3 linked regions of the Homo sapiens genome follow. The protein of the gene in region 3 purifies or fractionates together with the protein of the main gene of each other region. This does not show direct contact. Each region holds a gene or a part of one and is shown on either strand. Other genes may lie near its edges. The genes, in order: WDR6, GNL3L and FTSJ1.

Region 1 (10,440 bases), on a different chromosome or scaffold from region 3:
GCACTTTGGGAGGCCGAGGCAGGCGGATCACCTGAGGTCGGGAGTTCGAGGCTTGACAAACATGGAGAAACCCCGTCTCTATTAAAAATACAAAAGTAGCCGGGCGTGGTGGCGCGTGCCTGTAATCCCAGCTACTTGGGAGACTGAGGCAGGATAATCACTTGAACCCGGGAGGGGGAGGTTGCGGTGAGCCAAGATCACACCACTGTACTCCAGCCTGGGCAACAGGAGCGAAACTCCGTCTCAAAAAAAAAAAAAAAAAGTCTGGTAATTCTGGAAGCCATCATGATGGTTGTGATTTCTCAGGTATCAAGAGAAGAAAACCGCCAACTGTATCAGAGTGCTTATTTATTGGGCATAAAGACCACCCGGGCTGGGTGCAGTGGCTGATGCCTGTAATCCCAGCACTTTCGGAGGCCGAGGCGGGCAGGTCACGAGGTCAGGAGTTCGAGACCAGCCTGGCCAACATGGCGAAACCCCGTCTCTACTAAAAATACAAAAATTAGCCGGGCGTGGTGGCGGGCGCCCGTAATCCCAGCTACTCGGGAGGCTGAGGAGGAGAATCCTGTGAATCCGGGAGGTGGAGGCTGCAGTGAGCCGAGATCGTGCCACTGCACTCCAGCCTGGGAGACAAGAGCAAGACTCCGTCTCAAACAAACAAAAAAACACCCATATCTCAAACGAGAAAATGCTTGCAAATAACCTGAAACCGCGGAACACTATTCTTTTTAAAACGAGATATTTTAAGTAGGTCGTGAAAGTGGCCTTAATGTTATACTGCCTTATTCCAGTGACGAATATTCATCATGTGTAAAATGGGAGAAATGAAATGTTATTAAAACAAACATGTGAGACTTCGATGAGAAGAGACGGTACCCGGTCTAAGCGCCCACCGGGTCGCGAGGATCCTTTTCCTGGTTAAGGCCTGGGTCACAGCGAAAGAACCCTAGGCCCAGGGAGGGCCCCGAGATTTCAGATCCGGGGCCCGGCTGTGCAGGTGGACCACGCGGAAGGGGCGCTGGGGGCGGTAGGTCGAAAGCAGCCGACAGGGCTACCACTGGCGCACCTGTCCACTTACGGGGACCACCGCCGCATCCCCGCCCCAGCTAGTCGGTCCTTTCCGGAAGTTCCACCTCCCTAAATTTTTTTCCGGTTCCGCTTACTCCTTCCGGTCACCATGGCGACCAGGCGCCTTGGGGTCGGGGAGACGCTGGGGGCCCTCAACGCGGCCCTGGGGCCAGGCGGTCCGGTGTGGATCAAGGAGACGCGCACCCGCCACCTGCGTTCCCGAGACTTTCTGGCACCGCACCGCGCGCTGCAGGCGCGCTTCGATGACGGCCAGGTGGGCGTGAGCCGGGCGGGGCCGTGCGGCCGGGAGATGGGCCCCGTGCCGTGGCTCTTTTACACGCCCGTTCTCCCGCAGGTTCCGGAGCATTTGCTCCATGCCCTCGCCTGCCTGCAGGGCCCCGGTGTGGCCCCGGTGCTGCGCTGCGCGCCGACCCCCGCGGGTCTGTCTCTCCAACTGCAGCGGTCCGCCGTCTTCGAGCGCGTCCTCAGCGCCGTGGCCGCCTATGCCACGCCCGCCTCGCCTGCCTCGCTGGGCCAGCGCGTCTTACTACACTGCCCAGCACTGCGCAGCTCCCCCTGCGCACTCCGCTTGAGCCAGCTGCGTACGGTGCTCGTGGCCGATCACCTGGCGCGAGCCCTGCGCGCTCACGGGTGAGCGGGGCCGCGGGGCCGGAATGGAGAAAGTGGGACTGCCGGGTACCTAGAAAGCGAGCGGCGCCGCCCGTGGGGACTGCGGCTGGAGGTGGGAAGTCGTGGCGAGCTGGACCAGGTGCTCAGACTGAGGCGGCCGCCCTCCCTTCGCAGGGTGTGCGTGCGCCTAGTGCCAGCTGTGCGGGATCCGCACATGCTGACCTTCCTGCAGCAACTGCGGGTGGACTGGCCCGCTGCCTCGGAGAGAGCTTCCTCCCACACCCTGAGGAGCCACGCCCTTGAAGAACTTACCTCTGCTAATGACGGGAGGACACTGTCCCCTGGCATCCTAGGCAGACTGTGTCTGAAGGAGCTGGTGGAAGAACAGGGCCGCACAGCTGGCTATGACCCCAACCTGGACAACTGTCTGGGTAGGACCTGAAGCCTAGCAGGGCCAGAAAAGGCAGGAGGGGGTTAGGGGCACATCTCTGCTTCTTGTCAGTCTCAGCACCTGTCTGTTCTCTTTTCAGTGACTGAGGATCTCCTCTCTGTGCTGGCTGAGCTGCAAGAGGCTCTATGGCATTGGCCCGAGGACAGCCACCCAGGCCTGGTTAGTGACTCCCAGCCCTGTAGGTTCTCCCAAACCAAGTATACTGTACTTCCACAGTTATGATTGTCCTCCCTTAGGCTGGGGCCTCAGATACTGGTACAGGCGGCTGCCTGGTTGTACATGTTGTTAGCTGTGAGGAGGAGTTCCAGCAACAGAAGTTGGACCTGCTTTGGCAGAAGTTGGTTGACAAGGCTCCACTCAGACAGGTAGGTTAATAATGATGGTGGAGCTCCCCACCACCTAACCCCCAACCTCAGAGGGCCCTTGAAAACCCACCGAGGGGCTTGTTAGCTGACAGAAACCAACACTTGACCTTGGGGGAGTTGCTGGACTTGAGAGGGCATGTACAGCAGGTGCAGAGGCTCTGGGGAAGGGGGGTCTGTAGACACATCCCAAGAACACTGAAGACCAGGTTGAGAAGGATGAACCATGCGTAGCCTGAGTGGCTGGGTAGACGGAGGCACTCAACCTGGCAGTTCCAATTTGAGGGAGTCTGGGCTGAGTAGAGGCACCAGATTTGGGCTCCTCAAGGGACTTCCTGGAGAGTAGCGCCAACTAGGCTGAGCCCCTGACATCTTTCTGACAGAAGCACCTCATCTGTGGCCCTGTGAAAGTAGCTGGTGCACCTGGCACTCTGATGACTGCCCCTGAGTACTACGAGTGAGTGAGGCTGGGAGGAACACCAACCTAAGCCAGGGTAATGAGGGGGGACTCTTTACCCAGGACCCTGCCCACTGGCCTTCCTCTCTTCCAAACACAGGTTCCGGCATACCCAGGTGTGCAAGGCCTCAGCACTGAAGCATGGTGGGGATCTGGCACAAGGTGTGCCTGGGAAACCCTGGCTATGTTCTGGGTTAGGGGCAGGTTTTTTGCATCCCTGCCCTTGCCTGCAGACTGACTGACCAACCCTATACTCCCTCAGACCCAGCCTGGACAGAGATCTTTGGTGTTCTCTCTGTGGCCACCATCAAGTTTGAGATGCTGAGCACAGCCCCACAGAGTCAGGTGAGCCTGGGAGCCTGACAGGGCCAGTGTTGGGGCACAGGGTGTGGTGGCTGCCTTCTCTCTCTGCAGCTGTGCTTCTATTCCCCAGCTCTTCCTGGCTCTGGCTGACAGCAGTATCTCCACGAAGGGCACAAAGAGTGGCACCTTTGTCATGTATAATTGTGCCCGTCTTGCCACACTCTTTGAGAGTTACAAGTGTAGTATGGAACAAGGTCTGTACCCCACTTTTCCTCCTGTGAGCAGTCTGGACTTCTCACTGCTACATGATGAGGTGAGTGTCCCTCCTGGTAGCTGGCACAAGGAGGCCTGGACTTCCCCTCCCAGCACCTTTCTCCCCAACAGGGTGAGTGGTTGTTGCTCTTCAACAGTATCCTCCCCTTTCCGGATCTGCTGAGCCGGACAGCAGTGCTGGACTGCACAGCCCCGGGGCTCCACATTGCTGTACGCACAGAGATGGTGAGGCATAGACAACCAGGACACTCTACACTCTATTCTTTATTCTGGCCTGGGGCACAAGAGCAAAGAGATGGGCCAGTGACTCAGTCTCTGTCTCTAGATATGCAAGTTCCTGGTACAGCTCAGCATGGATTTCAGCTCCTACTACAACCGGGTACACATCCTGGGGGTGAGCACACAGCAAAATGGGGTGGGACGTGCAGAGAGGTATAGGGTAAAGGCAAAGGAAGCAGAGGATGAGACCAGCAGGCCCTTTCTCTTTCAGGAGCCTCGACCACACCTCTTTGGTCAGATGTTCGTCCGCCTGCAGCTTCTGAGAGCTGTGCGTGAGGTGCTCCATACTGGCCTGGCTATGCTGGGTCTCCCTCCACTGAGCCACATTTAAGGCCACAGAGGCTCCAATACCTGGGAATGTTCACAAAGTCATCAACTGGAAAAAAAGCAAAAACCCACGGCCAAAATAAATTGGTACTGTTTGTTACAAAGTTCTGTCTTGTCATGGGGAGTCGGGCATATTCTTGGCAGCACTCCACTCACCTTCAGCTCCTGCACCGACATCAGGAACCCACGGCCACCACCTCCTCCCCTCAAGGCATGCTGAGCATGGGCACAGACAGCCCATCCCTGCTCCATGCTGTCTGTGAGCAGGCCCCATGCCCAGCACGCCAGCCACCGCAGGATACCTCAGTCATACCAGTTGTAAACCTCAAGCCCCTGACCCCCAAGGGCACAACGGTGGCCAAACTCAGGGCTCACAGGCCAGCAGTCCATGTCAGCCACATCAGGCACATGGAACACAGTGCTATTCATGAAGGTGGGTTCACCATGCCCCAGACGCCAGAAGGTCAGCCGTTGATCAATGGAGGCTGAGACCATGATGCTTGGGCTTAGGATCTTGAGGCCTGTCACATGGGCAGCATGTGCACAGGGGACAGAGTATTCCTCTAGCACACGCAGCTGGGGTACCAGCCCAGCCTCTCCCACAGCCTCTTCTAGCTGTAGCATCTCCACAGCAAGCACGAAGACATGGAGGGATCCATCTTCACTGCCACTGGCCACGAGATGGTGGCCCTCACGGGTGGGCAAGGTGTGCAGGCTGTTGATACCACAGCTGTGGGCCTGGAGAGTCAGGGAGGGGGTGCCAAGCCCTGAAGGAAGAGGAAGAGGGTAGTTGTCAGGGCCCCGCCTGCCACATGTGTGAGGGCTATGTGACAGGTGAGGAGGGGTAGCCATGGTTGCACATTAGCTACTCACGGTAGGGAAGCCCAGGATCCACTGGAGGCTCCAGGACAGTGGAGTCATGGTCTAGCATGGTGGTGAGATCCCAGAAAGCCAGGCTGCCATCAGTAGCTGCGCTGCACAGGAGGAGCCTCCTGAGAGCCAGGAAAAGACAGCCTGGTCAATAACAGAGATGAAGCTCAACAGGAACCCCCCAACCCAGCCCATGCAGGACCATCATCCAGCCCCTCTCACCGCCTCTGGTTGGGTGCCTCGTGTGTAAAGGAGTGGACCTTGAGGACACATCGCTTATGGTGGAAGGTTTCAGCAAGGAGCTGCAGAATCCGCCCAGAATCCTGCAAAAGAAAGAGCCTGGGGGGCGGGGGGTGGCCCAGCTCAGAACGCATCCTAGACAACCTTACTTCCTTTGTCTCCTGTCCCACTGGGCCCTATGCTCTCACCTTACGGCCCCATCACTACAGGCTGCAGCCACAAGGGGGCCAAGGCCGGGCTGGTCAAGTTCACACACAGCAAGGGACATGTACCTGCAGAGACAACATGCAGCTGTCAGGTGGAGCCTGCAAGCCTGGGAGCATCTGCATGACCCATACCACACCCTGCCCAGGAGCATATATTACCTGGTCTCTGGGTCTACCTTAACCATCCGATGCCGATTGCGTTGCCGGTCCCAATACTCATCTAGCCGGTGGGACGAAAGGTGCATGACATGGCAGGCGAGGCGGCTTGGGGTGCTGGGGTCCGGAGTAACCATGATGCTGAAGCAGTGCATCTCAGCCCGCCCCCCCGCAGACACCACATGGGCAGTCAGGCCTGGCTGAGGATCCTGAGGGCCACCTGGGGTGCCAATGCCCCACACAGCCACAGCACGTACCGAGGAGATATGGTTACAAACAGCTGTGAGTGCGTGGGCTGAGCCTGTGGTTGTAGGGAGTGCTAGGACACAGACAGTAGTGTCCTCACTACATGTGATCACAATGTCAGTCAAGTCGGGCCCCTCACTGCCAGGCTCCAGGTCATCAGGCTGCATGAAGCTGGGCACTCCATATTCAGGCCCCAGGGTAATGGTGCCCACACGCTTTACACAAGTGATCTCACGGCCATGCAGACCCTCCCGGAGAATCACGTGTGGCCGGGTGCAGCCACCCAGAGCCCTGTACAGCATGACATCCCCATCCTTGAGGTAAGCAAAGGCCATGGCCGCCTCAGTATCAGAGAATGCCCACGAACGGTGCCCTCCACCACAGTTGACGATGTGCAGCTTCTCGTGTGACCGAGGGTTCCACACCACAAACTCATTGGCATGGAAACCCAGGATAACCATGCTCCCATCGGGCACTATACGGAGCCCAGCTAGCCAGTTCATGCCTCGACAGGACTTCTGCCTTAGGACTGGCTGGAGCTGGCCGTCTCGTACAAACAGCTGGTAGTAGGCTCCATCACGCCCTGTGGTATACACATAGCCACCATGGCATGTGACTGAGGTCACACCCTGCTTCCCGTGCAGAGAGGGCAGGGTAGACACTGGGCCCAACCCAGTGAAAGCATTCCCACCCCCACTACTACCACTACCCACTACAGGTGCCCCAGCACCAGCCCGAGCCTTGCCTCCCACCCCAGGGTCCTTGAGCAGACCTGGTCTGGAGGGGAATAGCAGCACAGAGCCCCGGCGGTCACCACACACCAGGAAGTCACCTGGGGGTAGGAAGGCACTGCATGTGTGCCATCTCTGCTTGCTTGGGGGCAGCAGGTACCGACAACGTTCCTTGACAAAGATGGCCTTGCCAGAGGGTGCGGCTGAGATCTCTAGGCAAGCTACTACCCCGCCAGGGCCCGATGCCAGCAACAGGAGCTCCTCATAACCACGCAGGGCCCAGCTCAAGCTGTGCACCTTCCCAGGAAACAGGGTCTGGTCCACAGCAGCAGTTGGAGTGTTGATGGGGACAACCTTGACACGACCTTCCCCATTGGCCATAGCACACAATCCGAAGCCCTCGGGACCAGGAGCTGCCTCCAGCAGGCAGTAGGACTGGAAATGTTTATCCTCTAGCAGCTGCTCCCAGCACTTGACCTCGACGTCATAGAGATACAGGGCCCCTGTATCAGTCACTGCCAGCAGTCGCCAAGAGCCAGCCAGAGTCACAGCCTTGAGTGTACCTGGCCTACTACGGGACTTGAAGCAGAGAGCCGAGACCCCCAATCCCCGGTACCCACGCCCTACCAAGTGCCACAGCCGAATGCCTGAGTCATCACCCCCAGTGATCACCCAGGCCTGCCTCTCATGGGCAGCTATGGCCCGGATCCCACGTCCCTGGTGTCCCCGAAAGGCCTGGAGGATCTCACCTTCATGGCTCCACACCAAGCAGACACAATCCTCTCCTGCACTGATAAGGTAATTCTCTAGAAGCTTGACCTGCCACACACGGGCGCTGTGCCCAAAGCAGTGCCCAATATTCTGCACCCGACCCCCAGGCACTCGCAGGTCGCCCACCTTCCAGATACGAACGCTTCGGTCTTCTGAAGCTGTAGCCAGCAATCCCTTGCTTTCCAGGTATGACATGCTGAAGATGATGCCCACATGCCCACTGATTCGTCGGTCAGGTGCTACAGGTTTGTTGTCTGCTAAGGCAGTTGCTGGGTACCAGACCAAGAGCTGGTTGGAAACAGCACCTGCCACTATGGTCAGCTCCTTCCAGGCGTCTCCAATCAGGCAGGCTGAAGAGAGGGTGCACCTGTCTGTGCAGGGCACCTCTTGCAGGATGCACCCTACTACAGGGTCATATAGCACCACTGAGTTGTGGCCCAGGGCCAAGGCTATATTTCCCTCAAGCCAGCGTGCATCCCAAATCCAGTCAGACATGTTCCACAGGCCAGAGCGCCAAAGCTCCCAGAAGTGGCCCTGTCCCCAGCTAATTTTCACAACTCGGAGTCCCTTGCTTCCAAACACAGCCACCATGGCCTCCAAGTCAAGGTCTCCATTAGGCTCTGGCCGTACCCGGAAGCCATGGATAAGATAGTGGCCAAGCAGGTTCTGCACTCGCTTTATCATCCGCAGATGCCCACCAAAGTCCAAGCTGTACACCAGGACATCGGGACCCTCACCTAGATAGAGGCAAAGAGCCATGTCAGAGCTAGGTACCTAACTCTGATGACCCACAGGGAAGAGATGGGGATCAGGGAAACTTCTCGGCATGTAGCCTATGAATGCATCAGGACACACAATCCTGCAGCTTGAATCTTAGAAAATCCTTGGTCTCGGCCGGGTGCGGTGGCTCACGCCTGTAATCTGGGCACTTTGGAAAGCCAAAGCCAGACTCTGTCTCAAAAGAAAAAAAAAAAAAAGAAAATCCTTGGTCTCGGCCAGGCACGGTGGCTCACGCCTGTAATCCTAGCACTTTGGGAAGCCCAGGCGGATGAATCACCTGAGGTCAGGGGTTCAGGACTAGCCTGGCCAACAAGGTGAAAACCCCATCTCTACTAAAAAATTAGCCAGGTGTGGTGGCACGTGCCTGTAATCCCAGCTACTCAGGAGGCTGAGGCAGGAGAATCGCTTGAACCCAGCGGGTGGAGGTTGCAGTGAGCCAAGATCATACCACTTCACTCCAGCCTGGGCGAAAGACTCAAAAAAAAAAAAAGAAAAAAGAAAATCCTTGGTCTCAGCTTCAGCTGGACTTTCAGTGCTGACTTTGTGCTTCCCTCATCAGTCATTCTTTTTTTTTTTGAGACAGAGTCTCATTCTGTCGCTGAGGCTGGAGTGCAGTGGCACCGTGCAGCTCACTGCAACCTCCATCTCCTGGGTTCAAGCAACTCTCCTGCCTCAGCCTCCCAAGTAGCTGGAATTACAGGCGCCCACCACCACACCTGGCTAGTTTTTTTTTTTTTTTTTTGAGACGGAGTCTTGCTCTGTAGCCCAGGCTGGAGTGCAGTGGCACGATCTCAGCTCACTGCAAGTTCCACCTCCCGGGTTCAGGCCATTCTCCTGCCTCAGCCTCCCGAGTAGCTGGGACTACAGGGGCCTGCCCCCATGCCCGGCTAATTTTTTGTATTTTTAATAGAGACAGGGTTTCACCGTGTTAGCCAGGATGATCTCGATCTCCTGACCTCGTGATCTGCCCGCCTCAGCCTCCCAAAGTGCTGGGATTATAGGCGTGAGCCACCAAGCCCGACCAGTTTTTATATTTTTAGTAGAGACAGGGTTTCACCATGTTGGCCACGCTGGTCTCGAACTCCTGACCTGCGGTGATCCACCCACCTTGGCCTCCCAAAGTGCCGGGATTACAGGCGTGAGCCATTGTGCCCGGCCCCCTCATCAGTCACTCTTTTTTTTTTTTGAGACAAAGTCTCACTCTGCCGCCCAAGCTGGAGTGCTGTGGCGCGATCTTGGCTCACTACAAGCTCTGCCTCCCAGGTTTACGCCATCCTCCTGCCTCAGCCTCCCAAGTAGCTGGGACTACAGGCATCCGCCACCATGCCCGGCTAATTTTTTGTATTTTTAGTAGAGACGGGGTTTCACTGTGTTAGCCAGGATGGTCTCGATCTCCTGACCTCATGATCCGCCCACCTCGGCCTCCCAAAGTGCTGGGAATACAGGCGTGAGCCACCGCGCCCAGCCTCATCAGTCACGCTTGATGTTCACTTCAACCACAAATTTCTCAAACTCAGAGCCTCCTCCTCACCTCACTTTTTTTTTTTAATTAAAAAAAAAATAGAGATGGGGCCTGGCACAGTGGCTCACACCGATAATCCCAGCACTTTGGAAGGCAGGAGGCTCGCTTAAGCCCAGGAGTTTGAGACCAGCCTGGGCAACAGGGCAAAACTCCACCTCTAAAAAAATTATACAAATGAGCTGGGCATAATGGCGCATGCCTGTAGTCCCAGCTACTTGGGAGGCTGAGGTGAGAGGATCTCTTGAGCCCAAGAGGTGGAAGTTGCAGTGACCTGAGATTGCACCACTGCACTCCACCCTGAGCAATAGAGCAAGACTCTGTCTCAAAAAAAAAAAAAGTAAAATAAAATGAGAAGGATTTTGACAATGCAAAAAGAAAATAAAAGATGTAAAATGAGAAAGTCTAATCCAGTGGTTCTCCACAGGGGGCAACTTTCCCCACAGGAGACATCTAGCAATAGCTGGAGACACGTACGGCTGTCTCCAGGGGTTGTGCTACTGGCAAGTAAGGCCAGGGATGATGCTAAACATCCTACAATGCACAAACAGCATTCCAACAAAGAATTATCTGGTCTAAAAGGTCAATCGAGGCAAGATTGAGAAAACCCTGGTCTAATCTAACAAGACTGGGTGAGTGTAAGGGGAGGCCAACTTGAGGACACAATATTTAGAGTTAGGATTCAAGGATAAGCAGCAGTTAGCCAGAGGAAAGGAGGCGGAAGAGGGGGACTGGGAAATGTTGGGGCGGGGGGGGGGGGGTGGGGAGCAA
Region 2 (11,144 bases), 6.1 Mb from region 3:
ATATACCTAATGTAAATGACAAGTTAATGGGTGCAGCACACCAACATGGCACATGGATACATATGTAACAAACCTGCACGTTGTGCACGTGTACCCTAGAACTTAAAGTAAAATAATAATTTAAAAAATAAATCATGTGAGTCTCAGGCCACCAAAAAGTAGCTTTGACCAACCAATAAAGCTGGGAACTGGAAGAAAAATGGACAGAACCCCATGGTTCATGTGTGCGCCTATGTGTATACGTGTGCTCGAGCACCAGGTGGAGACCTGAGTGTGCACATGGGTGTGAAAGGGAGGGATGGAGGAGGGAGGTGTGAAAAAAACAATCTATGAGGGACACAGGATGGGGGAGGCATACACACTGCATATCAGAAAAGGGAGTATGAGCTGGCAAGCGTGTATTCTGTGTGTGAAACAAGAACATCTGCCAAAAAGGCAGCAAGAAGCCCTAGAAGGAAGACAACATCCCCTCACATATGCTCCTCTCTGTCTCTCAATCCTCTCCTCATACTTTCGCTCCCTCTCCCCCAACCCCATCCCCTGGTCACATGTAACTCTCCCAGCCCCCAACTCCGCCACCAGCCCCAGTCTTCAGGCTCAACCTTGGGAGAGAGGAGCTCTCCAGAGGTGTCCAGTCACGGGTAAGGCTCAAAATGGCCCTTTATCTCCCTTTATCCCTCCCTCCCTCCCTTCGTCCGTCCCCATGGTTTTCTATCCTCTCTACACTGATTCCCTTGTTCCCCTCCAACAACTTCACACCTTCTTCCCTTTCACAGAAAAACGGCAAAAGATGCTTTGAGCAAACCTACCCAGGGGCAAGGGCTGCACTCTTACCTTATGCTCAAACTCCTCCTGGCGTCTTAGGACATCCTGACAGTAGCTCTCAATGGTCCTGCGTTTTTGTCTTTCTTGCTCCCGGGCGGCTTGCTGCTTCTCCCTCATCTCCTCAACCTAACAAGTGAACACACACTGGTACTGGAGCTGACTGGGTCTGCAGCCTAAGGGAGGGATGGGTGACAGACAGAGGAAATGGTGCGACATGGCAGAGGTGGCAGGAGCAGGGTCCAGGGAGAGGGAAGATATGACATCAGGAGATGAGGGTTTGAGAAGAAGAAAAAGAGAGATGAAGGGAAGGAAAGAGTTGCAGAGAAAAGAGGGTATAAAAAGCAGAGAGAGAATGTATCCTAGGCAGGCGGAACCACTTAAGACCAGAGATGGAAAGAAGCCAAGGTCCTGGGATGCTTCATCATTTAAAGATAAGGAAGAAGGCTGGGCAGGGTGGCTCACGCCTGTAATCTCAACACTTTGGGAGGCCAAGGCAGGTGGATCACCTGAGGTCAGGAGTTCAAGACCAGCCTGACCAACATGGTGAAACTCCATCTCTACTAAAAATACAAAATTAGCTGGGCGTGGTGGTGCATGCCTGTAATCCCAGCTACTCAGGAGGCTGAGGCAGGAGAATCGCTTGAACCCGGGAGGTAGAGGTTGCAGTGAATCGAGATCACACCACTGCACTCCAGCCGGGACAACAAGGTGAAATTCCATCTCAAAAAAAAAGATAAGAAAGGGGAAAAAGTGGCAAAAGAGACTGTCAGTGGCTAGTCAAAGAAGAAAGACATCCAGGAGAGTGAGATGACAAGAAAGTCCACATGCTTCAAAGAAAGCATAGCCTCAAATGCTGAGCATTCCAATAAGATGAGGGAAGAATACTATTCATGAATGTGATGTCAGGGAAGGCGCTGATGAGGCCAGCAGGGGCAGTGTCAGCAGAGCAGTGGAAGCATAAGCCAGACAGCAATGGACTGGGTGGTGAACAAACGCAGACATAAATCCAGTATCATGGTAACCTCCCTCTCTCCCGGCTTCCACAAATAGCCTCAACAACCCTAACAACTCTTGCCTTTGCCCTTCCATTCAACACTTCTGCGGACCTGGCATTCAAGGCAGGCCCTCTCTCTCCCCACCAAGGCAAAAAGCTTACCCACTTCTTCTTTAATTCAGCCTCTCGATTGGCATGATCATTGGGGTGAACAAAATGAGGTGCAGAGGGCACTTTGGAGGTTGCTTTCTTCCCATTTTGCTTTGCAGGCTGGCCACCACATAAGAGAAAAAAAACAGAGGTAATGAACCCATGGAAATCACCTCAAAAAGGCAGCAAGAAGCCCTAGAAGGAAGACAACATCCCCTCATAAATGCCCCTTCTATCTCTCAATCCTCTCATCCTCTCATCCCCTCACTCCCAAGGTGAGCAGCAGGAGTTAAAGCTTCTCAGATAAGTGTAGTTGTGGGGACAAAGAAAGGAGAGAAGCAAAAAGGGCTCCATCCCCAAAGATCTGCCCATCTGGCTGGGTAGAGGTCCTCTCTCCTATAGCTAGGCAGGGACTGACAGGAGACCTCTCAGAGGGGAAGGGCAGCTGGGAAGGTTTCCCAAGGCCCAGGGAAAACCTTTCTAGATAAGTGACTCTCAAAAGAGTGGTCCTCAGACCAGCAGTAGCAGCAGCACCTGGGAACTTGCTAGAAATACAAATCATGGGATGCCATGCCAGACCTACTGAATCAGAAACTCTGAGGTGGGGCCCAGCAATCGATGTTTTCCCCCATCCTCCAGGTGATTCTAGAGGACTGGTTAAAGTTTGAGAGCTTCACCCATGCTAAATTGTGAGAACCCAAGCCTTCTCTGGCCTATACCTTCTTCTCATTGCTCTTTCCCAAGCCTTACTTACCCACACCTTTCCCAGCAGGACCAGGAGATCCAGGAACCAAAGATGATGTTTTGGCCTCCCTCTTCTCCATAAGAAACAGGGACTTGAGAATCAGACAGTCTCAAATCCCAGTTGCGTTACCTTGAACCTAGGAACTTTCTCACTGACAGTTTCCTCAACTAAAACATGGGGATAATGATAATCCCTACCAAGGTAAATCAAGCACGAAGCTGCATATGACTTGGGAAAAATGCTGCTGATTCTCTGCTGCGGCCACCCAGAGAAGGAGGGAAAGCCAGATCCACTGACTCCAATGTGGCACTCTGTCCAGAGTCACCCAATATTTACTGGGTTTAGTGGGCCTCTCCCAGGACAAGCAACCTGTTCTTGACCTTACCCTCAACAACAGGCATACCTTACCTGAGGGTAGGGCCAACTTATCTTCTTGTGGCCCTTGGAACCTTCACCTGGCTTTTTATTTTCTACAAAAGAAAAAAAAGAAAGAAAAGAGCCGTCATCCATCTACACGATATTTGTTGACATCTGAATCAAGGCCAGGCCACACTGGGAACCTAGCTAGGAAGCCTCAGATACCATGTCTGTCTAGATCCAGCACAAGACAAGAGATGCGGATGGCAGCAATAGTATCAGAGGAAGTACTGGATATAATATTTGCACATTATTTCACTGCAAACTCAAATAATTCTGAGAGGAATTCTGTACAGAGAGAAACCTGAATATGTGCTTGTGACTCCTCTTTCCCCCAGAACTTCCTACTGGGGGAAACTCAACAATTTAAGTGCCAGGCTGAGATGAGGGAGCTGGCAGAATGAGAAGGTAATCTAAGGAGTCCCAGCCCACTAAACCTGGGCAGATGCCCTCAGTATGTGGGGAAAGAACCATCCTTCCTGCTGACCCTGCTCAGGCCATTGCCTCCAAAGGGACTTGACCTACTCAGCCAAAATGCTGCCGCCTCCCTCAGATACAAAAAGAAGAGATCTACCACTTCTCCAATCATGACTTAGCAAAGCCCAAGAACTTATGAGGCCTCTCCCCTTCTTCAATAAGAAGTCCCATCTCTCAACCCGTTCACAGTTGGCCTATTGGGAAGAATGGCTCCCTTTAATTCTTACCACCTTCATAGGGGCTCAAGGAATTCCTAGAGAGACAGGAGTTTCTGGAAGCTCAGGATATATACAAACAAATATATTATATGAGCAGCTCGAGAATACCACACAGAGAACAGGCTCCACAATCACATCAGTTGGCTCCCACTGCAGAGTTAAGGTACGAAACAGAACTTAAGTTCTACTGCAAATTCTTTTTATTTTGAGACCGACTCTTGCTCTATTGCCCAGGATGGAGTGCAGTGGTGTGATCTGGGCTCACTGCAACTTCTGCCTCCCGGGTTCAAGCGATTCTCCTGCCTCAGCCTCCCGTATTCGTATACAAAAATACAAATTTTTGTATTTTTAGTAGAGATGGGGTTTTGCCATTTAGCCAGGCTAGTCTCGAGCTACTGCAAATTCTTAAGGAGAATCAAGAAGATACTTCAAAGGAACTGTGTGAGAAAAAAAGATTTTCCAAAACTTGACACTGAATAAAAATTCAAAAGCTGGGTGCCGTGGTGCATGCTTGTAGCCCCAGCTACATGAGAGGTTAAGGTAGGAGGATCCCTTGAGCCCAGGAGTTCTAATCCAGCCTGGGCAACAAAGCAAGACCCCATCTCTTAAAAAAATACACAAACACAGACTGCTTTAACAGTCAAAACTTAAGCTGGGCACAGTAGCACCTGCCTGTTGCTAGCTGGGAGGCTGAGGCAAGAGGATCACTTGACCCTAGGAGTTCGAGAACAGCCTAGGCAACATAGTGAGACTCTGTCTCTTAAAAAAATTCAATAGAAATAGTGAAAAACAAAAAAGACATCACTAACAACCAAATTAATAAGCTAGAAGACCAAAGGAGGGGCTTACTTAGAGCAAAAATTCAAAGAAATTGAAATGATGAGCAAAAATATAAAAGAAAAAATGGACAATAGAGCCAAGACAGCTAAAATCTAAACAGGAGTTCCTGAAAGAGAAAAGGGTACAAATGGAGAAGCAATAATTTTCTGAATAACAGACGAAAGTTCCTTAAGTTGAACATAGGCTTGAGGTTTCAGACTGGAAAGACACAGGCAGCAGCAAGATTAACAACCAAGGCCGGGTGCCATGGCTCACCCTGTCATCCCAGCATTTTGGGAGGCTGAGGTGGGAGGATCGCTTGACACTAGGAGTTTGCGACTAATCCAGGCAACATAGTGAGACCTTGTCTATATAAAAAAAAAAGTTTAATTAACCAGGTGTGGCGGCATGCACCTGTAGTCCTAGCTCTCAGGAAGCTGAGGCGGGAGGACTGGTTGATCCCAGGAATTCAAAGTTATAATGAGCTATGATGGCACCATTGCACTCCAGCCTGGACAACAGAGACCCTGTCTCAAAAAAAAAAAAAAAAAAGATTAACAACCAAAAAGACATACCCTGGACATATCCTGATGAAATTTCTGAACTCTAAAGATAAAGAGATAAAATTCTAACCAACAGATCACTCTTACTTTGTGAAAGTAAGAAAAAGACATTTTCAGGTGAGCAAAGATTACCACTTGCCTTTCTTTCTTTCCTTTCTTTCCTTTCCTTCCTTCCTTTCTTTCGTCTCTCCCTCCCTCCCTCCCTCTCTCTCTCTGTTTTTTTTTTTTTTTGAGACAAAGTCTCGCTCTGTTGCCCAGGCTGGAGTGCAGTGGTGCCACCTGAGCTCACTACAACCTCCACCTCCCAGGTTCAAGGAAATCTCCTGCCTCAGCCTCTGGAGTAGCTGGGATTACAGGCGTGCACCACTGTGCCTGGCTAATTTTTTTATTTTTAGTAGAGACGGGGTTTCGCCATGTTGGCCAGGCTGGTCTCAAACTCCTGGCCTCAAGTCATTGGCTCGCCTTGGCCTCCCAAAGTGCTGGGATTACAGGCATGAGCCACCACGCCTGGCCCTGTGTTTCCTTTTGGATAAAACTACTGGCAAAATAAAAATTAAATCAGAATAAAGATCCCAAGCTAAAGGAAACAAACAGTGGTGGGCAGGAAATCTACGGAAATCTACTAAAACTTATCACTGAGGCCAGGAGCGATGGCTCACAGCTATAATCCCTGCACTTTGGGAGGCCAAGGCGGGTGGATCACTTGAGGTCAGAAGTTCAAGACCAGCCTGGCCAACATGGTGAAACCCCATCTCTACTAAAAATACAAAAATTAGGAGTTTGAGACCAGCCTGCCCAACATGGTGAAACCCCGTCTCTACTAAAAATACAAAAATTAGCCGGATGCCTGACTTGAGGTCAGGAGTTTGAGACCAGCCTGCCCAACATGGTGAAACCCCGTCTCTACTAAAAATACAAAAATTAGCCGGGCGTGTTGGCACGCACCTGTAATCCCAGCTACTCGAGAGGCTGAGGCAGGAAAATTGCTTGAACCCAGGAGGTGGAGGTTGCAGTGAGCCAAGATCGCACCACTGCACTCCAGCCTGGGCAACACAGCAAGACTCTTGTCTCAAAAAAAAAAAAAAATTAGCCAGGTGTGATGGCACATGTTTGTTGTCCCAGCTACTCAGGAGGCTGAGGCAGGAAGATCACTTGAGCCCAGGAGGCGGAGGTTGTGGTGAGCCATGATCACACCTGCACTCTAGCCTGGCCGACAGAGTGAGACCCTGTCTCAAAAAAACAACAAAAAAAGGATTCTTAAAATCGAAGAAGCATATCATAAGGAAATAGCTCAGAACTGAAATACCAAATTATTTCAATAAAATCCAGGAATCAAGTAATGGGGGTTGGAAAAGCAAAAGCATGAAAGCATGCTAAAGGTTTCATTTTGAAAGGGTAGGTTACAAAATAGTCATTATTTAACTTTGGTAAAGTGATAAATACAGAATTAATTATGTTTGATATAAATATGAATACAATTACCAACATAACTTAATTACCGATGGAGGATTGTTTAAAAACTTCATCAAGTTAGCAAAACATAAATAAGGGAATAAGAGGAAACAAAATAAATAATAAATATAAAATAAGATGGTAGAGAGCCGTGCACGGTGGCTCACACCTGTAATCCCAGCACTTTGGGAGGCTGAGGTGGGCGGATCACTAGGTCAGGAGTTCGAGACCAGCCTGGCCAACATGGTGAAACCCTGTCTCCACTAAAAATACAAAAATTAGCTGGGCATGGTGGCAGGCACCTGTAATCCCAACTACTCGGGAGGCTGAGGCAAGAGAATCGCTTGAACCCAGGAGGCGGAGGTTGCAGTGAGCTGAGATCGCGCCATTGCACTCCAGCCCGGGTGACAGGGCGAGACTGCATCTCAAAAAATAAATAAATAAAAAATAAGACGGTAGAAATCTGACCAGACATAAACGTCTCATAACAAATGTGAATGGGTCGAATTTAAATAAACACAGTTTAAATAAACACGAAACAGACCACCAGTCTCCTTTCTTCTAAAGTACTCATGTTGCAACAACAACAACAAAAAAAATGTGAGGTTTGGAATGAACCAGGTCTGGACATTTCACTCAACAATTTCCATCTGCCTAACTTCCCTGGAAACTGAGTGCCTGCAATGGATACAAGCACACAGTGAAAGAAAACACATCACTTGGAGAGAAAAAGAATGTGCTTCAGAGGGGAGAAGAGAAGGGGGGAGGGAAAAAGGAGAAGGGGGTGCAGTCAGTCATCCCTCCCAGCACTCAGGAGCCTCTGCTCATAGGTTTTTCAACAACTCCAGAGAGAAAACAGCTACCATTTTATAACCAGCAGACATTCTTACTCTGGCTCAACAACTACCTAGCTATATGACCTTGAAGAATTTTTTAAAACCTCTCTGAGCCTCAATGCATCCACCAATATCATCTAGGCCTAAAATCACCAATTCATCAGTACTCAAAAGCAGATCTCTGTATTCGCTAATCCCTCATCTCCCATACTGTCACCCACAGATGTCCCTGTACACCCACTGACTTCATTCCCCTCATCCTTCCTCTGCCGTAGCATCAAATTTCCCACAACATTCTCTGAAACTCCCACCTGGGTGATCAGCACTCCCCTAACAACCTCTCCCTGGGATCAATTGTCCAAGCTCCTGCCTTGATACTTGGCTCTCCCAAGGACAATGCTTCACTTGCAGGCCTCTCAAAAGGTGGTTGTTGTTTTCACTGCCACACGTTTATCCGGGGGTCAGTAGGTAGAGAACGTAGCCCTCCAGACTCACCAGTGCCAAGCTGAGACTATTTTTCCCTCTTGTTAAAAAGAAAAAAAAAAAAAACCAGGTGTGGTAGCTCACGCCTGTAATCCCAGCACTTTGGGAAGCCAAGATGGGAGGATTGTTTGAGCTCAGCAGTTCAAGCCCAGCCTGGACAACATAGAAAGACCCTCATCTCTATTGAAAAAAAAAATTAGTGGGGCATAGTGGCAAATGCCTGCTTTCAGTTAGCAAATCTGAAGATCTTTCCATCTAATAGTCTTTCCACACAATACAGTTTTTCCATATAATCTTTCTATATGATACTACTTTATCTTTTAAACAGCCAGAATTCTTAAGTATGCATATATCCTACTTTATTTAACGAGGTAATTTTTGTCTTTTCCATCACTATCAATATTTCTATCATCTAGTATTAGATGTTCCTAAATAAAGTATAATTACCACCTTTCTTGTGTTACTTATAAATATGATTATTTGGTCGGGCATGGTGGTTCACGCCTGCAATTCCAGCACTTTGGGAGGCCAAGGCAGGCGGATCACTTGAGGTCAGGAGTTCAAGACCAGACTGGCCAACATGGCAAAACCCCGTCTCTACTGGTAACAAAGCAAGAGTCCATCTCAAAAAAACATAAAAAATAAAATAAAAGTATGATTATTTGCTTTTGGTATTAACAGTATGATTCTTGATGACATTTTTATGATTATATAAAAAATGTATTTTTTTCCCACCAAGCTGTCCACTGGCAGGGCCAGCATTCACACAGAAAACAGAGCACAATCCTCATCCAGCCTGCCCAGTGCCAGTGTGCTATCCAAATGTTATCATTTTCTTTTCTTTTTTTGTTTTGTTTTATTCCTTTTTTTTTTTTTTGAGACAGCGTCTCACTCTGTCGCCCAGACTGGAGTGCAGTGGCATGATCTTGGCTCACCACAACCTCTGCTTCCCAGGCTCAAGCGATTCTCCTGCCTCAGCCTCCCAAGCAGCTGGCATTACAGGCACGCTCTTAATCACTAGTACAACTTATGGTACCAACTGATAGAGAAAAATGTTAGGACATGTCGGGGTTACAGGCAGTGTGATATGTTTTTATCGCAATTCACCTCAGATCAAGTCACTTAACCTTGCTAAGCTTCAGTTTCCTCATCTGTAAATTGAGAATGGGGCATAATGGAAACATTCTCTTACAAGGAAGTCAGGAGGACAGCAATGATACCATATGAAAAAGATCCAGACTGAGTGATGTGAAACATATTCAACAGTTTTTAAAAGTTGCTGTGAAGGCTGGGCGCAGTGGCTCATGCCTGTAATCCCAGCACTTTGGGAGGCCGACGTAGGCAGATGACTTGCGGTCAGGAGTTCGAGACCAGCCTGGCCAACATGGTGAAACTCCGTCTCTACTAAAAATACAAAAAGTAGCCTGGCATGGTGGCACACACCTATAATCCCAGCTACTCGGTAGGCTGAGGCAGGAAATGCTTGAAACCGGGAGGCGGAGGTTGCAGTGAACTGAGATTGCACCACTGCACTCCAGCCTAGGTGACAGAGCGAGACTCCATCTCAAAACAAAAACCAAAAAAACAAAAAGTTGCTGTGAAATTCTATGAATATTCATTAAAAGCACAGGATTGGGAGGGGTGGTAAAGGAAACTCACTGTGTCTAAGTTTCATCATGATGACCAGCTTGAAAGCAGATAGGTTCAAATCTGCTTGCTCTCTTCCTGTCAGAATGGGAGAAGAAGCAATTTGAAGACAGCTGGGAATCACAATGCCACAAGCCCCCTCCTAAGTCCCCTAAAGGTAAAATGTTAAAGAACATTATGAGGAAGGCGTAATAATTAGGAAAACTGGGAGAAGCTGGAGCTAAAGCCTCATATGGCTGAGTCCACACAGAGAAGGCAGTGTCATACTACCCAAAGGGAGGAATAGGTCTCAACCTCATCCGGGGTGGAGTCAGTGGCTCAAAGCCACTGGGCTTTGAGCCCAGTGGGGTCAAATGGGGTCAGATGGGGTCTTTGGTCCTTATTCCTCCACACTGTAGTGTTATATTCTAGGTAGGGGACTAGTGCTCAACACCTCCACACTGAGGGGAAAGGGACATGCAAGGATGGTCTATTTCTATATGGGGTGATAATAGTGCCTCTTTTCCCAAGTAGGGGATTCTATATCTCATCTACCCTGGGAGAGGTGGTGGGGAAGGGCGTAAATAGATCTCAGGAGTCTACCCTGGGGAAAAGGGGCCTGAGAACAGGGATTCTTACCTGAGTGTCTATATGGATTGAGATAAGTACAAAATCTTGGAGGAGGGGGTAAAAATCTGTGCCTGCATATGCCTGGGGTCTATACCTTGGTGATTTGGGTTGGGGGGATTGCCATCTGTCCCTCTACTCTGGGGTGCAGAGAAACTGGGGAAACCCACAAAGTGGCTGTGTGCATCTCTGCTGCATGGGGAAAGAATCACAGATCTGTTTATCTCTAGATTGTGGGGATGGGTCCTGCGTCTCTTCACCCTGGAGAGGGCTGTGGTACAGGATCGATATGCCTGATTCCACAACTATGCAGCTTTGAATAAGCGGGTCTGCACCTTACCTGCAGTGAGCTATTCTGGACCCTTCTATGGAAGGTGGACTGTGACAACTTTCATCTTTTATGCTGGTTGAAGTCAGCGGCACACTAACACTGAAAGAAATAGGGGCTCTGGTTCTCTGCATGGGTGGTGTGTGGAGGGGGCTGGCAATGCAGCTATAAATTAATAGATCAGCCCTAATACTTGGGGGTGGGGGCGTCTGTGATTCTACCCTGGGTGGAGAGAAACAGATCTGAGCTCCACTACCTTGGGTAAAGGGGAGAGACCATACGCACTGAACTGCCAGGTAATCAGCGATGTCACTCCCTCTCAACATTACAGGGAGGGAGACCTGCATATCTGCTCCTGTGGGGTATCTCCCTTGCTACATTTAGTGATTCTAAATCTTTGGGGGAGGTAGGGGGAGGTAGGGGGATGATCTGTGTCTACCTCAAAGGGAGAGGAACACATCTGAGCCCCTCTACCCCCACGGCCCCTCAAGGGGCAGACCTGACTGTCTCTTCATGGATTAAGGTCTGTTCCTGTTTGCTTCGAAGCATGTTGGGTGCTTCGAAAAATTACACATTCGGTAAAA
Region 3 (9,418 bases):
ATAAGTCAACCAAGGTGGGAGATACAGAGAAGGACACACACAGGGGGCCCCGCCTGGCCTCCCACTTTCTGTTGCTATTTACCATCAGGAGCCCCGTCACACACCACTAGGTCCGCAGGGCAGCCCTTAAAGTGCTGGATGATCTCCTTGGCAGTGGACAGCTATGGAGAGAGGGAGGATGAGTGGCCCCACGGCCCTCCACTGCTGCCCTCAGATCCCGCCTGCCCATGGTCCTGGCCCACAGCCCCTGGGTCAGCCAAATTCCCAGGCTTTGCCTCTCTAAGACTGGGCTCCACCTCTGGGGACCCAGCATCATCATTTTCTGCTGTGTCTGTGCAATGATGACCTGCTGACTGTTTCTCCATGGTTACTCTCTCACTCTCTTTCTCTCTCTGTTTCTATCACCTCTCTGTTTCTCTTCCACTCTGCATAGACCCCAGGTAAGGGCCTTCACCCAGGATATACCCCAACACCCTCAGCCATGCTCTTACCTGGGTGATGTCCCCCTGGATCTGTACCACACCTGGTAGTGGAGCCATAGCCTGCAGGTCCACAGCCACCACGTGGCCGGACCCTTGGCCCCTGTGGACAACATGGCCCACATCAGCCTAGTTTCGCTCCCGGGCCCCTCCCACCCAGCCGGCCCTCCTGGGTCTCCCATCTGGGACCCCCACACTTACCCGATCTTCTGGCTCAGCACCTGGCTCCAGCTGCCTGGGGCTGCACACAGGTCAACTGCCCGTGTCACGCCTGGGCATACATAGTGAAAGCATCCTGATCAGCTGCACCCACTTCTCCAACCTGGAGACCCTTGCAAAATTCACCCCTCTCCCCTGGGGAGCACCCACATATCTCCATTGCCCAGGTGCCCAACTCCTCTCCGGTATTCTGCCTATCTTCCTGCCTGTCTCCCTGCCCCAGAGACCCTCTGAGTCAGCCCACCTACCACAGGGAGCTCTGCAGACCCAGCCTACTTGTTTACCTCCTGTGCCCACCTCACCGCCCAGTGACCTGCCCACCAGTCAGGGACCTTGGAAGAGTTGGAATTCCTTATCCAGTTGTAGCAGTTTGAAGGCGCTGCGAGCACGCCAGCCATTCTCCTTGGCCAGGCGGTAGTAGACATCCCGCTTGTCCTTTGACGTCCGTCCCATTTCACACACCAGTTGCTCAAGGACCTGCCGACAGTCCACTGATGCCGGCCAGTATCAGTAACCAGATGAATGGGCTACCACCTACCTCTGTAGGGCGGAGAGAACCACACAAACTAAACTGGGCTCATCTGACCCACATGACAGCTCACACAGAAGATGGGCTGACTGAAGCCCTGGCACTGACCCCACTGACCTTATAGGGCCTGAAGGACCCAATCACTGAACTCTCAGGCTCCACTGCTTATCACACAGACCCTCCTCGCCCCCATCACTTACCCCACAGTTCCCACAAAAGACCCCATAAACCCAACATTCATCCCATAGATGGCCCACTTGTGAACCTGTCCACCTCCCATCACTGTCACCCACACTCCACACATTAAACCCTGCAACTGCCACTATCAACCCTTCTCTGCTCATGTCATGCCCATTAAAATCTCACTGACTGTATCCCCAGTTGTCCCCATTGCCCCTAGATTCATATAGTCCTATTAGCCCCCATTAATCCCTTGTTTTCCACCTTTATCCTAATACTACTTCATTGTACCTCCCACTCCCTATATCTCTCTCGTTTCACCCCATTCGCCATTAATCCCTTAGATGATTAGGCCCCTTTATTACTACATCCTTATGAACCTCTAACAATGCCTGGAGAATCATGGTCTATTAGCTCCCCATTAAGCATTCAATTACTGATTTATCAGCCCCCATTAACTCAGTTTTCTCCAATAGACCCTTCATAGATCACAGCACTAGCCTCCTGCCCTGTAACTCTTTCATTAACAAACACGTTAACTGATCACACATCAGTTCCCCATTCTCCCCTCACTGTCCACCCTGCTCTCCATGGATCCATCACTGGATGATCACACTCCAACAGTTTACTATTCACCTACTATGTATCAACAGAAGTTAACCCCCCCAACCCTAGTTTACTATTGCCCTCTCTTTACTCACTCTGTCCCCTAATTCCTCGACGGTCATGCCACCATAGCCCAACTACTGACTCTGACTACAACACCATCAGCCTCTCATTATCTTTTCTTTCACCAAGGCCCCTTGATCATGACCTCCATCCATCTATTATTCCCCCCACAACCTCACCATCATCCTTGCCATTACGATGCCCCATCACTTTCCATTAACCCGTTGAATATCATACCTCCATCAATACCTGGGGGATCATTTTCCCATCCATCACTCGTTATATTCTAGTTGCTTACTCTGCCATCCCCTCATTAATCAATCAATGAACAACAGTTCGACTAAAATATTCTTATTAGCCCCCATTGATTCCCCAGTAACACCCCACCCTCACGCTCCACCCAACCTCCCAAAACAGCCTTCTGACCACACTCCCCGTCCCTCCTCATCAATACCTCAAAGATGATAGCTCCATCGGGACCACCGGGTACCCCTCCAGGCGGCTCCGACCGCTGCGTCCCATGTCCCCACCTCGAATCCACCCCGTCTACTGGTCCCCTTCTGCAGACAAACCTTGGGTCTAGAACCCACCCGGTGCCAGCCGCCCGAACCATACACAGCTACGGCGCCCAGGGCGGACCTCCCTCCTTTCCCCGCAGGCGGGACAGTGCAGGCGTGCCTCAATAGCCTCCGCCCGCATTCCTGTCCTCCGCGCCCCAGGGCCCACCTTAGTTTTCGGAGCAGGGTGGTCCGCGAGCAGCCTGTGCCTCGGCGAGAGCGCAAACGGGCGACAAGTCCTAGGGCTTCAGTTTGTGTTCGTAGTCCACCCGAATGCCCGGGGGGGCAAGCCTATGGGCTGTCGCAGCGTGGCAAACTCGGCATCGTGGATCGCCCAGGTTCCGGCGGGCCGGGACCTGATGTGAACGTACAACGTGAGCCCCGTCATCTATTGTCGACGTATCCGGGGCTCGCGAACTGCGTTTCCCGGCATGCAACGGGCACGGCCAAAGCGGCTGAATCCACGCACTGCGTGGCTGCAGCGACGCGACGCGCAAGTTGCCAGCGATTCTTTGTTCTTTTTCTTCCGAGGCCAAGATCGATTTGCTCCCCCGCCCCTCCCTTCTTGGACCGTGCTTGTTATTGAGCCTGTAAACTACATTTCCCAAGATGCCACGCGCAAGATGGCGCCCATTCATTTTTCGCGTGCCGGGAAGCGAAATTACCACTCGGGGCATAAACGTGACAGTAAGGAAAATGCGTTCTTGAAGTGCGCGAGCGCGCGGAGGCTGCTCGGCTGCAATTTCAGATCGCACTACAGCTAATGCATGGCGCTGCCTGAGTTTTACTGCCTCAGAACTTCAGTTTCCCTGTCTGGAAAGTGGGGATAATCAATAGTATAGACTTAACAGCATTATTGGGAGGGTTAAATAGGTGTAGCTTAGCCACTCTCTGGGCTTTTGTAATTCTGTGATCTTCAAATATTTTAAATTCCATCCCAGACACAAAAAAAGACTATACATCCTGACCCAGTGGACAAACGGAAAAATAATGAAAACGTTTATCATAGTGTTTACCATGTGCTAGGCTCTAAATGCCCTCAGTGGTGTGCTGGTAAATGGTTAACCACTGGCTGGGGCGGGGGTGGTGGCGGGGAGGGGTGGGGGGAAGGGAGGCTGGTTTCTAGCATTTACCAATTTCCATGGCTTAGGTACAATCTTCTTGTTAGATTTCAAGGTACCGACCTGTGGTCACTGAACAGGGAGTTTAAAAGAGATGCAGTAGTGCACTATCATGTATTATTTTTACCATACAGATAAAATGGGGGTAAATGACCTCAAGAGCATAGAGAATAGTGGAATGTGGTAAAATTAGGAAGTTACCAGTTTTGAGTAAGTTTATATCATTTCATTTTTAACCATAGCTGTTTAACTTTAGGGGGCTGAGGTGGAAGGATCGCTTGAGTCCAGGACTTCAAGACCAGCCTGGGCAATATGGTGAGATCCCCGTCTCTACAAATAATAAAAATAGCCGGGCGTGGTGGTGTGTGCGAGTAGTTCCAGCTACTTGGGAGGCTGAGGTGGGAGGATTGCATGAGCCTGGGAGGTCAAGGCTGCAGTGAGCCTTGATCTTGCCACTGCACTCCACTGTGGGTGACAGAGTGAGACCCTGTCTCAACAAACAAACAAAACCAGTTGTTAAACCAGCTGTTTAACAACCAGTTTGCAAAATTTCTGAAAATTGAACAGCTCCTCCCAACCTGTATAAGTTGGCTCCAGCATGTCCTTCCCTTTGTTCATTCATTTTAATCCTGGCAACATGCATATGAGTATTAGCCAGGGGCGGCGGCATGTGCCTTTAGTCCCAGCTACTCCAGAGGCTGAGGTGGGAGGATCCCTGGAGCCCAGGGGTTTGAATCTAGTCTGGGCAACATAGCGAGAACCCATGTCTCTTTAAAAAATAAAAGGGCTGGATGCAGTGGCTCACGCCTATAATCCCAGAACTTTGGGAGGGCGAGGCGGGGGGATCACTTGAGGTCAGGAGTTGGAGACCAGCCTGGCCAACATAGTGCAACCCCGTCTCTACTAAAAATACAAAAATTAGCTGGGCGTGGTGATGCGCACCTCTAGTCCCAGCTACTCAGGAGGCCAAGGTGGGAGGATCACTTGAACCTGGGAGGTGGAGGTTGCAGTGAGCCGACATCGTGCTACTGCACTCCAGCTTGGGCGACAGAGTGAGACCCTGTCTCAAGAAAAAAAAAAAAAACAGAATGATTGATTCCTTAGCACACGAGCTTCACCAGGCAGGGATTCCTGTTCTGTCATGTTCACTGCTGCCTCCCAGTGCCTGGAACAGGGGTGGCGCACAGTTGGTGTTCAATAAATGTTGGTTGAATTCATCCTTTTGTTGCTTCGTTCCTTAATTTTTTCCCCAGTGGTGCGTCCTGCATTTCTATGGAGCCCTGGGTGGAGGCGTAGAGACTCTGAGAACCAGGGAAGAAGCCAGAGCTTTGTCAGCAGAACTCAAGGGCATTGTGGGACTGTGGGAACATGACTCCCCTGCAGAGGCGAGCGAGTGTGAGAAAGGAAGGGTTCGAGCCACCAGGCCTCCGCTCCACAAGAGAGGAGGGGGTGCCAGGCATTGGGGGCCCATGTTCACCCTGTGGGACGCTTCCCACGTCCTGTTTTCTTGTCGCTCACGAAGAGGATGTTTAACTTTTAGCAAAGAAACTTGCTTCCTCCAGCAGGACCGGGGGTTTGGGGGACAGGAGCCAGGCTCTGAACTCTCCAGGCTCTTCCCGAAGTAGGGTGTCGGCCTGCAGCTCCCACCCGGCACCCCACTGAGTGTAAAGGTGTCCTTCCCTTGGCCTCCTGGAGGGGTCAAGGAAGGGGGAGCTGCCAGGCCAGCTCTTTCCCGGTGGGGGCATCTTAGCAGTGTGAGGGAACGAGGGGGGTGGCCCAGGGGCAGGGGACTAGGACTTTGCTGCCCAGGGGCTGCTTTGAGGAAAGGAAGTGACTGGAAAGAGTTACTCCGTGGGGAGCCTGCATGAAAGGACAGATTGGAATCCCATATGCAGCCCAGCAAGTGGGACTTTGCTTTCGCAGAGAAGAAATCATTAATTCCTCCCACAAATATGTATTGAGCAATAACTATGTGTAAAGCATTGTCTTAAGTGCTCTGCCTGTGTTAATTAATTCAATTGTCTCGATAGCCCAATGAGTTAGGCGTTATTAGGCCCTTGAGGAAGCTGAGACTCAGTGAGGTTTAGGAATTTGCTTGTTTAGCCACACAGCTAATAAGTGGCAGAGCTGAGAAAGCTTTTGCTGTTAACTGCTTCACTGTGTCCCTCCCTCCCCTGGATGCTACCGGGAAGTGAGCTGTTTTCATCAAATGTCTCCTTAGAACTGATGATAACCCAAAGTGACTTTTAACAGATTTCACGGGACTCCCATGTGTCACACAAGGGTCTGGTTTACTGAACCAACAGAAACCTTAAATGACCCTGAGAAGGAGCCCTACTTTGATGAACTAACAAAGTGTTCTTATCCCTGGCACAGCCTCAAGGCCTCGGTCCTGCTTAAAGACATCTGTTCCTTCTAAAGCAAATTCCTCTAAGCAGCCAGATCACACATTCCCTTTGTTTTCCCGCTGCCATACCGGCTTATGTTGAGCACCTGCTATCTGCAGTGCCCTGAAACTTAGCAGAGCTGTCGGGTTCTCAGAGCTGGATGGAGGTTCATCTCTCCCGTAGAAGAGTTCCTTTGGCAGAAATAAAAGTAATGATAATAATACGACATTAGATAAGTGGCCTTTGTTGAGCGCCTGCTGTGTGCCTGGTAGCCCTGTGTTGGTCCATGTTGGAAGGCCAGTAGAGGCAGGCCCTGGGAGGGAAGGGGAGCAATCAGAGCAGGAGGCTGTGGCAGGGAGGCGGCGAATGGATGCAGAGGGGAGGGGGGTTGTCTTTTTTTTTTTTTTTTAAATCCAAATAAAGTATGCTAGTTATTTGGACGGGACACTTCAGACTTGAAATATGGATACCTGCATCCCCCCCACCCCCCGACCTTTAGCCATCTGGGTCAAAGCCTCTAGTGACAGGTGTCTCTTTCCCTGGCCAGCTGGTAGCACAGATGTGTAATGGCTCTGGGTGGGGGAGGGGTATGAGGGGAGAGAGAAATCAGAGTAGATAGGAAAGGAGACAGAGGCTGGAGGAGGTTGGGCAGGAGTGTGTGCGCACGTGTGTGTGAATATGCTGAGTGTATCTCACCTGCCCGTTCTCAGCCACAGCCACACGTATGTGAGCTGTGCCTGCGTCTTCCTATGTAACTTGCCTGGTGCTGCGTTCTGTCTATGGCCGCCTGCCAAACTTGTGCTTTTTTTTTTTTTTTTTTTTGAGATGGAGTCTCACTCTGTCGCTTGGGCCGGAGTGCAGTGGCGCGATCTTGGCTCACTGCAACCTCCGCCTTCCAGGTTCAAGCAATTCTCTTGCCTCAGCCTCCCGAGTAGCTGGGATTACAGGAACCCGCCACCACGCCCAGCTAATTTTTTTTGTATTTTTAGTAGAGACGGGGTTTCGCCACGTTGGCCAGGCTGGTCTCGAACTACTGACCTCATGATTCACTCACCTTGGCCTCCCAAAGTGCTGGGATTACAGGCATGAACCACTGCACCCGGCCCAACTCATACCTTTTTTTTTTTTTTTTTTTTGGCAACCGTGTGCATTGGTACTGTCTGTCGGTGCAGTTCATCTATATGTTGTTGTGTGTGTGTGTTGCTTGGGTGTTTGTCTCCTTTGTAATGGTCGTGGGTGACAAGTGTGTCAGAGTACTTGTCCCTCCTATATGTGTATCTATGCGCACGTATCTTTCTTTGTGTGTCTGCTGCTGTATTTGTGTCTCTTCTTAGCGAGTGGCTGCAGGTATGTGTGCCCTCGGGGTGTTTCTTCTGGTGCCATGGTATGAGTACTATCTGGTTCTCTTGTTTTTTCCTTGTGTAGCTTTCAGTGTGGTTTCTGGATTTTTTCTTTGCAACGATAGTAAGCGTACTCTGCATTCCTGTGCTTTGTGTTTGTGTGCAGGTATATGCTTTCCCTATATGTTTCTTTTCTGACTTGATTTGTGACTAGCTGTGTGTGTACACGGCTGTGTGCAGCCATTTGCTGAAATGCAGTTGTGTGTGTGTGTGTGTGTGAGAGAGAGAGAGAGAGGAGAGAGAGAGAGAAGGAGACTATGGCTTTTCTGTTTGTACAAAAATCATGTCAGCCTATGAGTGCCTCTCTCTGTGACTGGAGCTGTATGTGGTTACATGTGGTCACAAGTGCACATTCAAGTTCACATACACAGAGATATCATTTTAGGGCTTGAACCTGGAAGTTTGCCTCCAGGGTCATCTGAACCTGGATTCAGGTTCAGATCCAGGGCCATCTGAACCTGGATCGTGTGTGTGGGAAAGACCCAGGACCCACACACAATGTCATCAGCTGTGTGTAATTGTGTGCTCTGTGTGTGGCTGTGAATCTGTGTGTGTGATTTGCCTGTTGATTGTCTTTGGCATGGCTGTGGGTCCACGGGCGGTGAGGTTCAGGAGTCTCGAGTGTCTGGAAATCGGCACAAGCCTATCCCTGTGTTAGTCTGTGCTCTCTGTGAGCGGCTCTGAGCCTGTCGGTATTGATAGCTGTAAGACTATCGTCACTCTGTGTGGCCACGTGTGTGACTGTCCCATGAGCCATTGCTCTTAACGTGCAGTGGTGAGTCTGTGTGTGTTCATGTCTGTCAGTCTTTATTCTCTTGTGTGGCTGTGAGTCTTTGTGCACCTCTGTGAGTGATGGCGAGTTGGCCCCCGTATCTGAGCCCCTTGATGGGGCTGTGATGGGTCCTGTTGTGTAGCTGCGATTCCTGAGTGTGCAGGAGTCTCTCTCCCGCTGTGGGGAAGTAAACGCCCCATCCCTTGTCCTCCTCCAACTGTGGGTGGGGTGAGGGCATCTAGGCCAGCTTTGAAGCCCCAGCCAGCTCCTGGCCTTTCCGGGAATTCTGTGTTCCCTGTCGGGGGTGGGCAGGCGGGCGAGGGGCCCAGACAGAGGCCTCTTGTCCACCTGGGCTTCAAGCAGCCCAGTCGAGGTGGTCCCAGACCCCAAGTCCACCCTGCCTGACATCCTGTAGCGGACACGTGGCTTGCCTGGGACAGGCATGCCTGTCATATGCCTGGAGGGGAGTGAACAGACGGACTCCCATAGAAGACAGACGGACAGACAGATAGTGGGACTTCTCAGGGCTTGGACAAGCCCCACCCCACGCTTGGGGTGGGGTCCAGGACTACAGTGCCCGCCCAGTTTGCGGACAGTGTGAGTTCACAGTCCACATTCCCCACCCAGCCACAAATGCCCTCCCTGCCTCCCTCTGGGGGCCCCCAAGATCTAGGGTCCTCTCGTGCCTAGGCTGTCTGCCTGAGGTCTGCCTGGAATAGCCTGGCTACTACCCCTGCACCTGTTCCCCTGCTGTCCCCAGGCCTCTCTGCCTGAATCTGCCTCTCTCTGCCTCTTTTCTCCTGTCCCTCCAGGAGTCTCTCTGCCTCAACCACTCTCTCTGCCCCTTCATCTCTCTGAGCTGGTGTGTCTGGTCCTACCCTCTGTTTGGGGAGCTGTCTGGCTCTGTCCCCCACCTCTTGGCCAGCCTGTGTCTCCTGTCTATGACTGAGCCCAATTGCCTGTTGCCTTTCTGCAGGTGTTTCCACGAGCCTATCCCTACCCACCTGTTTGTTTCTGAGTCTGCCTGTGTGTCCCTTTCTCCCTGTCTCTGCCTGTCTTCCAAGCTCCCCTAGCATCCCCTCCTCCCGCCCATCTGTCTTTCTGT

Evidence for each region.
Region 1: the proteins of FTSJ1 (region 3) and WDR6 purify together in Homo sapiens (affinity purification with mass spectrometry; 3 studies listed by BioGRID and IntAct, with this or other methods). This does not show direct contact.
Region 2: the proteins of FTSJ1 (region 3) and GNL3L purify together in Homo sapiens (affinity purification with mass spectrometry; 2 studies listed by BioGRID and IntAct, with this or other methods). This does not show direct contact.

The regions. Positions count from the first base shown.
Region 1 is NC_000003.12:49,009,302-49,019,741, reverse strand, and holds the end of WDR6 (tRNA (34-2'-O)-methyltransferase regulator WDR6), read right to left. Parts: intron 8,322-10,440; exon of another isoform or gene 8,130-8,321; coding exon of another isoform or gene 8,108-8,129; coding exon 5,626-8,107; intron 5,533-5,625; coding exon 5,449-5,532; intron 5,360-5,448; coding exon 5,243-5,359; intron 5,165-5,242; coding exon of another isoform or gene 5,143-5,164; coding exon 5,024-5,142; intron 4,918-5,023; coding exon 4,454-4,917; 3' UTR 4,155-4,453; downstream 1-4,154. Other genes in the region: DALRD3 (DALR anticodon-binding domain-containing protein 3), read left to right, coding at 1,178-1,342, 1,424-1,719, 1,873-2,129, 2,229-2,308, 2,386-2,514, 2,895-2,968, 3,069-3,130, 3,231-3,313 and 3 more. UniProt on the Homo sapiens protein: Together with methyltransferase FTSJ1, methylates the 2'-O-ribose of nucleotides at position 34 of the tRNA anticodon loop of substrate tRNAs. Required for the correct positioning of the substrate tRNA for methylation.
Region 2 is NC_000023.11:54,531,080-54,542,223, reverse strand, and holds part of GNL3L (guanine nucleotide-binding protein-like 3-like protein), read right to left. Parts: intron 9,705-11,144; 5' UTR 9,658-9,704; coding exon 9,639-9,657; intron 3,185-9,638; coding exon 3,123-3,184; intron 2,090-3,122; coding exon 1,982-2,089; intron 952-1,981; coding exon 835-951; intron 1-834.
Region 3 is NC_000023.11:48,469,781-48,479,198, reverse strand, and holds the start of FTSJ1 (tRNA (cytidine(32)/guanosine(34)-2'-O)-methyltransferase), read right to left. Parts: upstream 3,001-9,418; 5' UTR 2,803-3,000; intron 2,637-2,802; exon of another isoform or gene 2,531-2,636; intron 1,239-2,530; 5' UTR 1,152-1,238; coding exon 1,031-1,151; intron 751-1,030; coding exon 681-750; intron 583-680; coding exon 492-582; intron 162-491; coding exon 83-161; intron 1-82. UniProt on the Homo sapiens protein: Methylates the 2'-O-ribose of nucleotides at positions 32 and 34 of the tRNA anticodon loop of substrate tRNAs. Requisite for faithful cytoplasmic translation.